2 separate regions of the Homo sapiens genome follow, and region 1 is linked to region 2. A link means that fine-mapping ties the variant in region 2 to the expression of a gene that starts in the linked region. Tissue or cell type: whole blood. Region 2 holds a variant in brackets; the other region holds the start of a gene. All regions are shown on one strand. Distances are between the middles of the regions.

The links. PIP is the estimated chance that this variant, and not a neighbour inherited with it, causes the effect.
Region 1: C1orf87 starts here. The variant in region 2 is the best candidate, but not a certain one, in a credible set for the expression of C1orf87 in whole blood (INTERVAL, PIP 0.78).

What each region holds. Positions count from the first base shown.
Region 1 is chr1:60,071,702-60,076,681 of GRCh38, forward strand. It overlaps C1orf87 (chromosome 1 open reading frame 87), which reads right to left and starts at 2,069. Exons shown (of 12, transcript NM_152377.3): 1 at 1,989-2,069; 2 at 836-969. The coding sequence starts at 942.
Region 2 is chr1:60,142,797-60,148,852 of GRCh38, forward strand. The region is part of intron 1 of LINC02778 (long intergenic non-protein coding RNA 2778); the gene reads left to right. It overlaps LOC107984963 (a long non-coding RNA gene), which reads left to right and starts at 5,728. Exons shown (of 3, transcript XR_001738092.1): 1 at 5,728-5,857. The variant A/G (reference allele first, on the strand shown) is at 2,801.

The DNA.
Region 1 (4,980 bases), 72 kb before region 2:
TTTGAGGTCTCTCCCAGTGATTCTGATGACAGCTAGGTTTAGCAAAAATTTCTTCTTGCACCTATGTTCAACAATACCATATCTTTGTATATTTGTTCAGTCTATGAGTTTCTGAAATAGAAGATAGAGCTAAGGAAATAATCTTAGGAAGGAAAAGTAATTTTTGACTAGCTATTACTTATGGAACGCCTACTATATGAAAGACAGATCTAGTACCTTCCCTCCTTTTTTGAGCCACTGAAACTCTGTAAGAAAGAGCTAGTCATACTGTTCTGTGCTGAAACATCTGGTGAATATTAGAAATACAGGAGTGTCATCTCTTAAATGTGACTCTGATGGGTTTGGAATAGAAGAAAGAGATCTTAGCCATGATCTGAGAAGCCCAAGCTTAGAGGAGTATCAAATACAAACAGGAGTAAGTGAAAACCTTACAATTTATGATTCTGTATTAATCCTACTCCTGTAATTCACAACAAATTGACTATTAAACCTCCCCCACTCTCCCCAAAATTAGTACATGTGGTAGATTACAAGCCCGATGAGAAAAGGCAGCAGTGCTCCATTAATATTTATAAATGTCGCAATGCTCATATTTCCCATCTATTTGGAAAATCAGCCCAAGTAATTAAGGAGTATGGGGAATTATAAAGATGAAAAATATCAGGAAAACAGTGCACATGGAAGTTATCAACACGATTTTACCTCTACTGTTGCATCTTAATGACTTCGTTTTCCATGGATGGCATTTTTTAAGTTTAAATTTCTGGGTGAAAACAAAACAATAAAACTTCATTATCATCCAAGCAACATAGATATTTTTCAAATATGGACTTACATCTTTGGCTTCTCCACGAGGTATTGAAAGTGTTTACTTCCAATGATTTTCACCATGATCTCAGGCATTGCATCTGATCCACGGGGAGTCTTCCAGGCTGAAGACATGATTCCTTTCAAAATCCCTTCAGATCCCTAGGGGTGAAAATAAGTAAATTGTTCCTCTTGATTTTCCATTAGGGAACTGCATCATCCTTGCCAATAACAACAAGCAATAATAATAGCAGGACAAAGTGTTTCACCTATATTACCTCACTTAACACTCCTAACAAAGGCATGAGAAAGATATTTTTAACTACTATTATCATTTTTGTTTTACTGTTGAGGAAACAAGCAAAATGTAGCTATATGACTTACTCACATCACATCACATCACCAGTAATTAGCCGACTTGGGAATCTCACCTAAGAGGTCTGTACAGCAGATCTACTGAATCATTAGGTGACTCTACCTTCCTGTACTACAAGACATAGGATGGAATTCCAGTGAGGTCAGAGCAGAAACAAGGGCATTAGTGGGACATATGAAGAATCCATATTCAGTTCTGATGTTTAGTTTCCCCATTTATGAGATCAGGGTAATTCTAGGTCTGTTCTCAGGGACTTGAGGGTGAATCCAAGGAGATAATGCATCTGAAGGGAGACTGTACACAAGACAGACAGACTTTTGTTGTTATCACTGATCTCTTTCTACAACAATACAATGAATCTGAAATTGAACTCCTGCACAAGGTGTTTAAACAGAGTGATGCCAAGGGAAAATCAGAAGTTCAGTAAATCTGGCCACAGCTGAACACTCCCTTTTAGAACCACCCAGAGGCTGAAAGGCCTTTAGAAATCATTCTACTCCAAAGGCTCCTTCACAGATTGGAAAACTAAGGCCCAGAGAGGGTGTGTTATTTGACAAGGGTCACAGAGGAATGAAGGACGGGACTGTTTCCAGTACTTGGGTCTGATGTCTAGGCCAGGGTTCTTCCCAAAAGTCCAATACTAAAGACCTGTGCTAGGGCAGCCCCTCATCCCGGGGACCTGCAGCCTCTTTGCACCTGTCTGGAATCTTCCAGACCCGGAACTCGTGATCCTCAAATCCCCTCCCTGCCCAGCAGCTGCGTGTCGGCCCTGATTGCCCGGAGAGAACAGAGTCGGGGGGCTTACCGCTAGGGCAGCGTCCCCACCCTGGCAGCTCAGAGGTGCGCGGTCCGTGCTTCTCCCCAGGAAGCTGACACTCTCAGACCCGGGGACGGGACGGGGCGTGGGGACCGAGCCCAGGAATCCGGCCAATCACAGGGCCCGCATCGCGGGCGGCGCCTGTTCCGCCCTGGTCGCTAAGGACGCTGAAGGCTGTTTCTGGGCGGGGACCAGGTTTTTCTCCACTGCCTAGGCAATGGACCCAGGCTCTGGCTGCCAACGGGTGAAGAGCCTAGGTGTTTTTGATCTGTGCCTTCTCTGTTCCTCAGAGATATGCGGGCGTCCTTCTAGAAGCCCATCTCGCTCACCTGTGTGGTCACCCTTGTCCCGCCCTTCCTCCGAAGGCTTCATTTCCCTTTGTGAGTTTGCACATAGTTGAGATTCCAACACAGTAGGTTCAAATCCAGACGTCTCCACTGTATGGCTTGAGTAAATCCCTTCTTTTCCCTGAGATTGTTTCCTCATCTGTGAAACGGGGCAAAATAATAACACTGTCCTAACTGCGATTTGGTGACTAAATTAAATAAGAATATCGGCCGGGCTCAGTGGTTCACCCCTGTAATCCCAGCACTTTGTTAGGCCGAGGTGGGCAGATCACGAGGTCAGGAGATTGAGACCATCCTGGCTAACATGGTGAAACCCCGTCTCTACTAAAAATACAAAAAATTAGCCGGTCGTGGTGGTGCGCGCCTGTAATCCCAGCTACTCAGGAGGCTGAGGCAGGAGAATTGCTTGAACTTGGGAGGTGGACCTTGCAGTGAGCCAGGATGGTACTACTGCACTCCAGCCTGGGCAACAGAGCGAGACTCCATATCAAACAAACAAAGAAACAAAAAAACCAGAATATTATAGATTGATAATAATAACGTTGAGTACTGTCTCTATGCCAGATCCCTATGACAAGCTGGATAACTCTCACCTCACAAGTTAATAGTTATAAACAAAATAGTTTTACTTTATTTTAAAGAGAAAAGAAACAAGTTGGGGTATTGATAAACTACTCCAAATCCTGCAAAAGCAAGTACAGAGCTAAGATTAGAATATAGATCTGCATATCCTACATTTCCAGACAGTTGTTATTATGCTAAAAGAAACTTCAGCTGATGCAGGCAAAGACACTTTAGATTGATTCCCAAACGGTATTGTTATTTGCATCAACATAGGCAGCAGCAGCTCCAGCATCTGTTCCCCTGTCTCCTAACCTCTAGCTGTACTGTGCTTTACAGGTGAATATATCACCCACTGGCACATGCAGCCAGAGGTGGACAGCACACTCAGCTCCCCTCCAGGGGCTCACTCTCTAGAGGGTGAGACACACAGCCACATTCTATGATATAGAAAGTGTTAAGGGAGCAGAGAAGCGGGGACAGCTCCCTTCTCACTCCTCCCTCCTAGCCTTCACGTTGCTTCCAGATCAGTCTTCCCAAGGCCCAACTCTGACAAGCCCCCTCCTCTACTCAAATGTCTGAAAGATCTCATCAGCCACAGCAGGTGTCTGTGGTTTCAAGACCTTCCACTATCTGACTTCAAGCTAGATCTCTAGCTTGATCTCCCACTACTTCTCCTAGGCTTGTTATGCTGCATCCAACCCAGTCTACTCACTGGCTTGAATCTCCCTTTCATATCTCTGCCTCAGTGCCTTTGTTCACTTTGTTTCCTCTGCCTATAATGCCCTTCCATTTCTCACTGTGTCAGCCTGCCTATCCATTCTTTAAGTTGGATCTCAAATGATATGTGAACTTGGGAATCAGACACTTTGAGTTCAAATCCTTGCCCTGCTAGTTCAGTGTAATCTTGGGCAAATCACTTAACATCTTTGTGCTTTAGTTTCCTCTTCTATACAATGAGGATGACTTTTTGTGAAGTTTAAGCGAGTTATATAAGAAAGGAACTTAGAAGAATGCCTGACACATAACGAACAATATAAATGTTTGCTCTTATTTTGGAAGAAGCCAAACTGGATTCCAGAGCTGAAAGTGGCTTCTTCATCTTATCTATAACTTGTGGTTTCTCTCTTAGGAAATATGTGTGTCTTTGTCTGAGAGTGTGGTATTTATTTGCTTTGTTTGTCCGGGCTTCTCGTGCTATGCTGTAGAGGGCTGAATAATGCCCCTCCCTCAAGATGTCCACCTTTTAATCCCCAGAACTTGTGAATATTACCTTCCATGGCAAAAAGAACTTTACGGATGTGATTAGGTGAAGGAACTTGAGAGGAGAAGATTATCTAAATTTTTCAGATGAGCCCTAAATGTAATCACGAGTGTCTTTATAGGAGGGAGGTGAGAGAGATTTGATGACAGAAGAGGAAGTAAATGTGACAATGGAGGCAAGAGGGTACAGGGATTTGGGGAAGGGATCATGAGCCAATGAATGCAGACGGCCTCTGGAAGCTAGAAAAGGCAAGGAAACTGATTCTACTCAAGACCCCCAGAAGGAATCTATTCTGCTGACCCCTTGGCTTTAGCCCAGTGAGACTGATTTTGGATTTCTAACCTTCAAAAATGTAAGACAATACATTTGTGTGTGGTAATTTATTATATTATCCATGGGAAAATTTAACGTCATGCTATTGAAGGACTCTTCTTTTCTTTTTCTTCTCTGTGTTTGTTAAATATCCAGAACAGTGTCTAGATTATAGTGTGCTCTACAAAATTTTTTGACCAAATGAATGAAGGAGAATAGAACCAAAATTAAGTATTAAAATTTCTCTCTAAAAAATACTATAATGAAAATGGTACAGGTGGGAGTTTTGTCTACCTAAAACGCTTGCCTATTCTTTCTTTCTGTGAAATGAATGCTTTCTTTGGGAATCTCTTTTCCTATTTCAAGGAGTCCTTGTGGGCATTTTCAATCAAAGTGCTGCTTGATTATACTCTATGTCTTAAGAAGGCCAGAGTTCTTATCAATGACCAATGCACCTGACCCTTGAACAATACAGAGGTTAGGGGTGATGACTCCT
Region 2 (6,056 bases):
AATCTACAATTGGTCTCAGGTATTAGGCTCCTGTTTACAGTTTTGTATAAATGATAAGTCAATATTCAATAGTGGGAATAATCTGAAAAAATAAACTGATACTCCCTTAACAATAAAAAGGAGGAGCTCTCTATTTCCAGCAAGGAACATACACAAGAGCAGGAATTTTAAATTTATACAGTTTGCTTCATTTGCAGCTTTGGTGGTTTCCACATTCATAGTCATTTAATACTCCTTACGTTCCAAGAGGAAGTGAGGAACTTGGGGATCTGTTGAAGGCTTGGCGAGTCTCAGTCATTCCTTTCTTAGTTCAAGAGGGTATTTTATACCTGAAACATACATTTTCCTTTCCAGGTCTAAAAAATTGCAAGATATAAAGAAAGCAGTTAAAGCCATAATGCACATGGAGTACAAACACTGTTTGAAGATGAGTAAATCATTCAGAAATACCTGAACAGCATTTAAAAAATACTTTTTCTTATTGATGGCTGTAGATCACAAGATTGGATACCTTTATAGAAATCTAACTGTGCTAGAAACACTAGGCAGAGTTACCTCTCCAAATGTAGTAATACAGCCCCAGAATAATTCTCCTTCAAGTTTTCAGATCTCAAGTTCATAGGATCTGGTTTAGGTGGGTCCTTAGAAATGATTTAAATCCCCTAATAACATAACCATATAATAGTTTTTCCACTTGTGTTTGCACATCTCCAGCAATAGAGAAGAGCATTCTTCCCAGGGCAGTTGAGTTGAAATTAAGTCAATACATATGCATCGAGCTCCTCTAATATGATAGTCAATTGTTTGTACAGAGGTATGTATTAGCTTCCTGTGGCTGCCATAACAGAGTACCACAAACCAGGTGGCTTAAAACAACAGAAATTTATTGTCTCACTGTTCTAGAGGCTAGAAGTTTGAAATAATGGTGTCTGTAGGGCTATGATCCCTCTGAAATCTATAGGGGAGAACCCTGCCTTACATCTTCCAGCTTGTGTTGTTTGCTGACCACCCTTGGCATTCCTTGGCTTGTAGATACATTATTCCAATCTCTGCCTCCTTCATCACATGGTCATCTTCCTGCGTGTCTCTCTTTTTCTCTTAAGAACACCAGTCATAGTGGATTATCTCATCTTAACTATTAGATCTGCAATGATCCTATTTACAAATAAGGCCCCATTCTGAGGTACTAGGGGTTAGGACTTCATCATATATTTTGGGGGTATGTAATTTAACTGATAACAGGAATTAAAGATGGTTAAGAATTGGTCTCTGCTTTGGGTAGTTCCTAGTTCCATGACTTCCCATAGCAGGCGTAGAAAGTAGACAGACTTGGTTTTCTAGCCCAGCTAAACCTCCTAGTGGCCAAATGACCTTAGTCAAGTTAATTAAGCTGTAGTTTCATCTTCTGAAAATGGAATAAAAATTGAGAAAATTGAATGGATCAGTGACTGGAGAGTGTATATCAAGATGATAAGCACAGGATAAGCACTGAATAAATGTTATCTTTCCCTTTCCCAATACCAGGACTTTATTGTATGATCAAATTATTCATTCATATACTCATATATTCGATTATTTCTGCAAATATTTCTCAAGCATCTAATACACAGCAAGCACCAAGGTAATATATTAGAGAAAAAGACAAGACATGATCCCTTCACTCACGGAGGCTATTATCCTGCTCTGTGCTAGATTTTAATTAAACAATTTATTTAGCAAAATGCCAAAAGGCCTTCAAAATAAGAAGAATGCTCAGTAGTGCACAGTCTGACTATTGAAGAGTGATAAAGGGAAATACATCTAACATTTATTGAGTGCTTAGCATATAACAGATACTGTGCTAGATAAGTTATCTGTCATCTCATTGAATCTTGAAACAACCTGAGGAAATAGTTGTTTAATTTAATAGGCTACAGTTCAGAGAAGTGATGAAACCTACCCAAGAACACTCAGCTGGTAATTTCTAGAACCTCTTTCTCCTCTGCCACAGTTAGGAGTCTATTTACTATTGGTCAAGAATTTGGTCATCAGATTGAAGACACATGAGGTGGAGATGAATGAGTCTTCTTTTGACAAAACATTTTATCCCTTATGTGGAATGGCAGTTTATCTCAAGGTAAGCCTCCAGGCCAATTTCTGCCCAGTTCTATTTTTTGTATCCACATGACAGCAGTTCACACAAAGCTTACTTGTGCCAAATCCTGCTTACTTTATGTTGAATGGGTTTAGGGAGACTCACTAGCATCCTTCTTTCATGATCCCTTGAAATCAGAAGGGCAAGAGATGCACTCAGTAGCCACATATGAGGACCCATTATAAGATTTTGATTCTCTTGATTCTGTGTTCTAAGAAGCCAGACACCTGTGCATGAGCTGAAGGCAATTCCTCCAGCTTTACAGTCTTCCCTACTGACTGCCAGAGTCTTCCCAAGTCCTCACATCACTACCCAAGGGCTCATAAACACTCTTGCAAGGTAGATGAGCTCTCCATATGGTTTGTCGTTTGAGAGAAATCCTAGGAGATCAGCAGCTTGGAAGACCATAACAGCCATGGATTTGACGTCTGTTTCCATGTTCTTTTCCTTCCTTTTATTGTCTGCGTGGATCATATATTCTCTTGGACACCAGCTTGAATCCTAAAAGCCTTCCAGAATAATGTATTTGCTCTTGTTCTTTAGGGAAGCTTAGCTTCAAGGCTTTTATGGTTATTTCATCCTGAATTTGCTGAGGTTTCATGGGTTACACTTTCTTCACTTATCTACATATGGTTGTGAATGAAAATCTATTAAATAGAGAAAAGG[A/G]TGACTTCTTAATGGCATTGCTGTCAATGAGGGTCATCGTCACAGCTTTCAAAATCTATGCAGCAGGGATCCCCTAGAGCAGTGGCTCTCAATGGGGAGAAAATTGTCTATCCCCCAGGGGGTGTTTGGCAATATCTGGGAATAGTTTTTGTTGTCATAACTGGTGTGTATGTGGGATGCTATTGGCAAAGGATGCTGCTAAACATCTTACAAACCCAAGGCACTCTCCCACAAGAAAGAATTATCTAGCCCAAATATCAACAGTACTAAGATTGAAAAACCCTGACCTAGAGGGTAGTCTTTAGACATCACCCTGAAAACTGAATGCTCTGCATTCCAGGCTTGGATCAACTCCTAACTGATTATTTTAACATGGTCAAACAACTTAATGCCTTTGAACACCAGCTTGCTTATATATAAAATGCAGGAAATGGCTGTTGGGAAAGAAAATTGAGCCACCAATTGTATTTTAAGGCCAAAGGAAAGAGGAAAATAATGTGTAATATTCACAGATGTTCATTTGAGTTATTTATAAGAGCGAATATCACAAAACAGCTGAAAGTTTTGTTTAAATAAAGAATAGTTTGACAGAACAGTATGAGGATCTTACAAAACAGTTTTCATTAAATGGAAAATGACTTTGTTATGATATTTTTAAAAGGATAATATTATTTAAATTAGTATGTACAGTAGACCAGAGAGGAATTTGTTACTGTGTTTCCTGAGCTGTCTCTATCAGTATTTCCTGTTGCACTCATCAGTGTCTAAGACTCAATTGTTTAAGTGTGTGTCTTTATGACCAGATCATGTGAATGATGGTAGGTCATAATTATCTCTGTATCTTCAATGTCTTGCACGTGGAAGGTAATCAACAAATGTTAGTTGAGTTTGTTTATTTATGTACGAGAATAAAAAAATAACTGCAAGAAGCCTAACTATATAAAAGATCAGACAAATGCAGCCAAATGTTAACAATGGTATTTTTAAGTTCAATTTCTCTGCATTTTCTATTCTACTATTTCTATATAAAGAGTATGTTTTAATTTTACCACAGGAATAAAAAAATAACTAGAGAGATTTTTGAACAAAGACTCTCATGTAAGTACATGGAAACTAGAAGTGTTTCCCTCCTGTTTTTTTTTTTTTTTTTTTTTTTTTCTCACTCCAGCCTGACCTCTTACCCAGGGAGAATTAGGTACTATTTTTTTGCTGCTGTCAACATTAGGTACTGACCTCTGTAAAAGCATTGATAATATCATATTGAATTTTACATTTTCACCTGCCCCACTACTGTGAGCAAATTTGATACAAGGCCAGTTTTTACTTATTTATCTCTGTATTCCTGCCACCTACCTCAGTGCCTTTTATACCAGTGGTGATCAGTGTATGCCAAATGACAAAACTCCTGTATGTAGTATTTACTATATCATACTGTGATTCACTGTAAGGGGGCAGGGACTGCAAATCACATATTAACATGTAGTAGATGCTCAGTAAATAGAGTTTGTTGAATAAATGGATGACAATAAAGCCTGTACTTCCTGCACTAAACCAATTAAACCAACTTTCCTCCAACAGCACCTGCTTGACTATGGATACATTAGCATAGCAGAGTTGAACAAAATCGAAATCCCTCACTTCCAATTAGGAGATAAGAGCAGGCTTGGATCCTGGCTTATTTTGCTTAAGGCTTAATCATTTGGCTCCCAGGTAAATTCAAATTCTTTAGAAATGAGTCAAAAATGCTCTTTTCAAATTTAGCATCTCTAGTCCAAGGTTGTAATTCCTTGATATTCCTCTAATGGTGTGAAACGTTGGACATTTTCTTTCAAATGTGTGACTTTGTAAAGTTCTTTTATTCTCTCGGTGACTTTAAAATAAAAAGGATGGTTATGTCTTAGGTATTGACAGGAAAGTGCTCTACTGTTTTGGAGGGAGCTTGAGTAGCAAAAATACTGAATAGTTTGGGGTAATGGTTAAAACACAAGTGGGTTTAAATCTTAGCTCTGCCACCCGTTGATTCACTGTACAACCTCTTGTAAGATAAGTCAGTGCTCCATGCCTTTGTTTCCTTCTTGAAAAATGCAGGCAACATTGTACATATCTCATTGAGTTTTGAGAGTGATAAATAAGAAAATGATTATAAAAATCACAGCACACTACATCTGGTACATAATAACCATTCAGTAAAATCAGATATCATTATGTCAGTAACAATTTGTGTAACCTGTGGAAAGTAAATTCAGGGCTTTCTTTTCATCTCCTTTTCTCCCTTCTGTAACTAAAGATTTGTACTAGGCTATCTGAATTCTCCTTCCCAGATCCTAGATTTTTATACCCATTGATTCTAAGGATTAAAGTCTTTAGGAGCCTTGTTGGATGTCTAATTCCTGTGCAGATTCTGTAGAACTAAAAATGGGTCCACTGACTGTAATCTAATGAGGCTTGGAGGCTGGGGGAAACCATCAGGAGAAAGAGTAGCAGTGAGCGGGCAAAGAACAACGAAGTATGGGAGAAAGAGCACTGGGTCAGGTGTTAGAGAATTAGAATCTAACTCAGGTATGGGATGGCTGTACATATAATTTCTCCATGGCAGCACTCAACTTTCTCACCAATAATATTAGAATGAAATCGCTAGTGAATTCAAAGCCTCTTCCAGTTCTACCTGATATGATTTTGGTCTATTTACTGGGCATACTATCCTGAATTTATTCTCTTCAGTGTTTGTTCCCCAGCCTGCCAAAAGGCCGCTCTCCTCCTTCAATCTTTCTGACTTCTTTCTATGAGTTCTGAACTTCGCTTCCCCTTTAGATGCTAGCTTATTAACCACTCTTATACACTGCCTAGAAATCCCAGAATAATACAAGATATTTGTCTGAAGGTCTTAGGGGTTCTTTCTGCATCTACTGCTTTCAGAATGACCATAATGAGGCTCCTGGGACCAACCATAGGTTAAAGAAAAACCATCTGGTGCTGAGAATCCAAAGGCAGCGGGAAATCCTCAACAGGAACTGGAGAGGTTGGAGAAATAATAGAGCAGAAGCCACCTGGAAGCAGGTGAATAACACTGAATAAATGATTACAACTTAGACTAATCCAGTCTTGCTCTAGAAAGAATAACAGATAAATGAAGGCAAATTTAGACTCAGTATTAGAATCAACTGTATAAAAAATGCAGTTTGCCAAATAGTGACACTAAAATGGCTTCAAGGTAGATAGCTGGAGAGTAAAAAATTTTAACCTGAAGAATGGAGAA